Linked DNA regions of Homo sapiens: region 2 is linked to region 1. The links come from fine-mapping of genetic effects on gene expression. Tissue or cell type: whole blood. Region 1 holds a variant in brackets; the other region holds the start of a gene. All regions are shown on one strand. Distances are from middle to middle.

Region 1 (2,836 bases):
AAACTTGGGCTTGGAAAGACCAAGCAACTTGCTCAAAAACATGCAGAGCATCTCAAAACCAGACACAGGAGGATCAAAAACCACCAAAAGACAACAGACCATGAGCACATCTGTTTTTTTGTTTTGTTTTGTTTTGTTTTGAAACAGAGTCTTGCTCTGTCGCCCAGACTGGAGTACAGTGACACGATCTCGGCTCACTGCAACCTCCATCTCCTGGATTCAAGCGATTCTCCTGCCTCAGCCTCCTGAGTAGCTGGGATTACAGGTACACACCACTATGCCCAGCTAATTTTTGTATTTTCAGTAGAGACGGGTTTCATCATGTTGGTCAGGCTGGTCTCGAACTCCTGATCTCATGATCCACCCACCTCGGCCTCCCAAAGTGCTGAGATTACAGGTGTGAGCCACAGTGCCCAGCCAGCATATCTTCTAAACTACGTTTTTCGCTGTGACCCATCTTTGAACTTCCACCTGTACAGAACTTTTACATAAATTACACAATAAAACAGAATCAAATTGAAAAAGAAACTTATCTTACCTTCTGTGGAAATCTCTTGTTTAAATCATGTATTCAGGCAAAACAGAAAAACATTTGTGGTTTTTTTCTTGGAGTATATGCAGCTTTAAGAAAATTTTTTTCATTCAGTGGAAGATTTATAATCTCTTTACCTGAAAAATAAGAGGAAAAATCTTGCTTTAAGTTCTTCCTCGGTAAAGTTAACTTATCAAAATGGCAGACAACAGGAAAAGGAGGCAGGGTGCGGTGGCTCACACCTTTAATCCCCACAGAATGGGAGGCCAAGGCGGCAGATCACTTGAGTCCAAGAGTTTAAGACTAGCTTGGGTGACATGGAAAAACCTCATTTCTACCAAAAAATACAAAAATTAGCCGGGTGTGGTGGCGCATGCCTGTAGTCCCAGCTACTCGGGAGGCTGAGGCGGGATCACTGGAGCCTGGGAGGCAGAGGTTGCAGTGAGCTGAGATCATGCCACTGCACTCCAGCCTGGGTGACCAGAGACTGACCCCATCTCAAAAAAAAGCAATTACAAAATTTTAAAAATAAAGCAATGGAACAGCATTTATTATCTGTCCCTTAAATATAAAATTTGTCTTTGATTTCATAATTCAACTAGCAAACATGACAGTTAAAATGATATTTTAAGATAGTTTTCTTTTTTTTTTCTTTTTTAAAGAGATGGGGTCTCACTATGCTGCCCAGGGTGGAGAGCAGTAGCTATTCACAGCTCCAGTCCCACTACTAACCAGCATGGGAGTTTCTGATGTGCTCCATTTCCAACCTCAGCTGGTTCACACCTCCTTAGGCAACCTGGCAGTCTTCCTTTTCTGGGAGGTCACCATACTGATGCCGAACTTAGTGCAGACACCCAGTTCACACAGCACATTACAGCCCTCAAGTGATCCTCCTGCCACAGCCTGCTGAGTAGCAGGAATTACAAGCACAAACCACTGTGCCTGGCTATATTACAACTTTAAAATTCCATTTTATAATTATCCTAGTCCCAGGTGAAATAATGTATTTAATAATTTGTAGGATGGGTGGAGTATTATGTTTAATTGGCGTTGTCAGGTATGAAGTCCTTCAGAAAATAAAATTTGTTTTAAAAAAGGTCTGA[C/T]GTTTAGCTCTTGAACCCACTGTCACTTAAATTTCCAATAATGATTAAAAATATTTTTAAATTAGGATTCCCAATACCCTGACCTCTACAAAGGGTTTCTTAGAAATAGGTCCTACATTTGTGGCTGGGGGCAGTGGCTCACGCCTATAATCCCAACACTTTGGGAGGCCGAGGCGGGTGGATCATGAGGTCAGGAGTTCAAGATTAGCCTGGCCAACATGGTGAAACCCCGTCTCTACTAAAAATACAAAAACTAGCGAGGCACAATGGCAGGCGCCTGTAATCCCAGCTACTCGGGAGGCTGAGGCAGGAGAATCACTTGAACCCGGGAGGCAGAGGTTGCAGTGAGCCGAGATCACGCCACTGCACTCCAGCCTGGGCAACAGAGTGAGACTCCGTCTCAAAAAAATGAAAAGAAAAAAAGAAATAGGTCCTACTTTTAAACTTTTTTCTTTAAAACATAGCGTGGCCAGGCGTGGTGGCTCACGCCTGTAATCCCAGCACTTTGGGAGGCCAAGGCGGGTGGATCACGAGGTCAGGCATTCGAGACCAGTCTGGCCAACATAGTGAAACCCCATCTCTACTAAAAACACAAAAAATTAGCTGGGCGTGGTGGCAGGCGCCTGTAATCCCATCTCCTCGGGAGGCTGAGGCAGGAGAATTGCTTGAACCTGGGAGGCAGAGGTTGCAGTGAGCCGAGATCGCGCCATTGCACTCCAGCCCTGGTGACAGTGCAAGACTCCATCTCAAAAACAAACAAACAAGACGTGGCACATAGTTCTGTGCACTGTTAGTATTTGGAAAGCATCTTGAAAGATCAATGGAAAGCTAAAACATTCTAAATTTAACATGAATACACTTACTTTTGATTCAGAAAATAAAATCAGATCTTTCAAAATAAAAAAAAAGTGTCGATCACTGTCGAAGTTAGGTGATGGGTACATAGATGTTAATTATGTTTTCTCTACTTTTGCATATTTTTACATTTTATATACAAATCAAAAAGGTGGGATGTGGTGGCTCACATCTGTAATCCCAGCACTTTGGGAAGCCAAGGCAGGAGGATCACTTAAGTGCTGGAGTTTAAGACCAGCCTGAGCAACACAGCGAGACCTTGCCTCTACTTAAAAAAAAAAAAAAAAAAAAAATTACTTAGCTGGGTGTGGTGGCACACACCTGTGGTCCCAGATACTTGGGAGGC
Region 2 (2,651 bases), 64 kb after region 1:
CTGGACCTTGTCTTTTCCTTTTTTGATAAAAAGTTGGCAACCTTGTCAGAACCTGGTAATTTTGGGGTCCTCTGCAGTGAAGGGTAGGGTTGCCGTGATGTGGATTGTGGTTCAAGGCCCAAGGGAAGATTTTGGACAGGAACAAGGCCTGGCTGCTTGAGGGTGGGAGAAGGCAGAGACTGAAAGAACTAAGTCAGGCTGGGGGAGTTTGTCAGGATGTGGCGGGGCGGATCCCGGGTGGGGGAAGCAGAGGAGGAGGGGATGCCTGGCTGGGGACAGGAGGAAGCTGACCAGCTGCAAGGACGGGGCAGGTCTGGGTGGAAGGCGGGCCCCAGGGAGGGGTGACCCAGGGTGGGGGCAAGAGCTTGGGGAATGCTTCTGTCTCCTGCTCAGCACATCCAGTTCCGGGAGGGCAGTGGAGGCGTGCTCCAAGGTCTGGCCCTGCAGACGGTTCACCACCTCTTCTCAAGCCCAGGGGACACTAGGAGCACTGAGGCCAGGACTTGGGACCTGGGATGCCAGAAGTGGGGCCAGCTCTGTCCCAGAAACCAGAACCCCCAGAAAGAGGTCTCGGCCCGCCCACCTCCTGGCCCTGAAGGACCAGGTGGGGTCCCGGGTGCAGCATCCCAAGGTGCTGCTGGAGGCCAGGGATGTGCTGGGAGGCCATCTCCAGGTCCCAGTTTACCCTGGGAGGTTGAGGGCCTGAGACCCCTGGGAAAGGGCCAAAGCCCAGCAGCCCCCACCCCTGAAGGCCGCAGGGGAGCGACTGGTATGCTTCCAGTCTGGGAGTGAGAGTCTGGTGCCCACACATCTCAAGACTGGCAGGGACCCTCACGTTCCTCTGGCCAGGCGAGAGTGCACTCATAATGCCCTCCCCTGGTACCAAGCCATGGCCTCCCCTCAGACCTGCGGGGTTCCTGTGGGGGTGCTCAGGCCATGGGGCCTCTGTGGGCGCTCGTGCTTCCTGGACGGCGGCATGGTGGGCAGGGTGCTGCCCTGGCTGAACCTGGGTCTGAACTGGGGTGCCTGAACCTACCAGACAATGCTGTGGCCGCTGGGCAGGGGAGAAGTGGGGGGCGCGGGGAGCGCAGGCCCAGCCCCTCCCCTCCCGTCCCCTCCCCTCCTCTCCGGTTCTCTTCTGCCCTCTCCTCCCCGCTCCTGCTCCCCCTCCCCTCCCCCTCCCCCTCTTCCCCCTCCCCCTCTCCCCCTCCCCCTCTTCCCCCTCCCCCTCTCCCCCCTCCCCCTCTCCCCCCTCCCCCTCCCCCTCCTTCTCCCCCTCCGCTTTCCCTCTCCCTCTCCCCCCTTCTCCTGTTCTCCCCGCCCTCCCCTCCTCTCCCTCGTCGGGGGCGGGGCCGGCAGCTCCCGCGCGCTCCGGCCCCTCCTCGGCCACACAAAGGCCCCGTCTCCATGGCAGCAGCGCGGGCCAGAGCGCAGCGCCGAGCGCGGCCCGGGCGCCATCGAGCCTTGGCGGCGGACGTGCAGGTACCGAGCTCGGGGGACTGGGCTGCGGGGGACGTCTCGCTGGGCGTGGGGGGGGCTTCGCCGTCAGCGCCGCTCCGCCCGGGCCTGCCGCGCTGGGGCCCGGGGACCTGCGGCGGCTGCGGCTCCGCGGAGGGCTCCCGGGGCCTGGGCCCCGTCCGTCGGTCCATCCGGCGAGGCCCGGGCCGCTGCCGCCCCACTCCCTTCCCGGTGTTGACTCGGGGGACGGGCCCGGCGGCGGGGGCTGCGCGTCCCTCCGGAGCCGCGTCGGATCCCTCCTCCGCGCCTGCCTCTCACTCTTCAGCCGCCGAGCTCCGTGCGCCGAGCGGAGATGGTCTCGCGGTGCGGGCGCTCCGGGCCGGCCCCAGGCTCAGCGGCACAGGAGCCTGGATTTGCCCGAGCTCCCGGGGGCCGTCCCCGCACCCCCTGGGGCCTGCTTGGCGCGGGGGGACCAGGGCGGAGAGCACCCGCACCTGGCGAGACCCCACTGCCTGGGCCTCCTCGCGGTTCCCAGAGTGGCGTCTGGGTGGACACCCCGAGACACAGAAAGTCTCAGAAGCGGGGGCGCGAGCCCTGCCTGTCCCCTGCTGACCCTGCCCCTCCGCACCCTGCTCCTGCAGGAAGCCCCTGCCCTGCCAGCGCCCCTGGTCGGGCTATTCGGCAGATCTGGGGAGCCCGCCTCCCCCTGTCATCTGGGGGTCTCAGAGCCCGGACGCCCTGGGGCTTCCTGCCAGGCCCTTGATTTCTCTTCCCGAAGCTCCCTGGGAAAGGAAGAAAGGGGTCCGTCTGCCCACTGTGGGCTGTGGCAGAGTCAGGACAGGGGGTGAGGGTGAGGGTGAGGGTGAGGGTGAGGGTGAGGGTGAGGGTGAGGGTGGGCCCCAAACCCGGCAGATCCCGGCGGCCTGGAGGGCTCCCTGTGCCCCACCTTCCCTGGACCCCCCCGCCCTCCCCACTTAATGTCTGACTTCGGCCCTTGCTTGGAGGTTCGGCGCAGCCTGTGAGGCTTTAAAGTTGAGCTTCCTCAGGAGCCCTTTGCGGGTGGGAGAGCGAGGCTGCCGGGAAGTGGGGGCTCTCAGCCTGCCCCATGCCCAGATGACCCTGGCACGGAACAGCTGAACAGCTGGTGGGAGGAGCCCTCCCTTTCCTGTCCAGAGGTGAGGGTCTCCCGGAGG

Evidence for each region. PIP is the estimated chance that this variant, and not a neighbour inherited with it, causes the effect.
Region 2: it holds the start of PLXNB2, and the variant in region 1 is fine-mapped to the expression of PLXNB2 in whole blood (TOPMed, PIP above 0.99).

Annotation. Positions count from the first base shown.
Region 1 is chr22:50,369,853-50,372,688 of GRCh38, reverse strand. PPP6R2 (protein phosphatase 6 regulatory subunit 2) reads right to left here. Exons shown (of 24, transcript NM_001242898.2): 2 at 539-669. It also overlaps the pseudogene RN7SL500P. Among named protein-coding and RNA genes, the nearest start is that of PPP6R2, 28 kb to the right of the region's middle. The variant C/T (reference allele first, on the strand shown) is at 1,636.
Region 2 is chr22:50,306,384-50,309,034 of GRCh38, reverse strand. PLXNB2 (plexin B2) reads left to right here and starts at 1,389. Exons shown (of 37, transcript NM_012401.4): 1 at 1,389-1,482. It overlaps DENND6B (DENN domain containing 6B), which reads left to right. Exons shown (of 20, transcript NM_001001794.4): 20 at 1-5. RefSeq lists silencers at 318-367, 1,068-1,117, 1,278-1,477, 1,488-1,557, 2,078-2,228 and an enhancer at 2,536-2,651.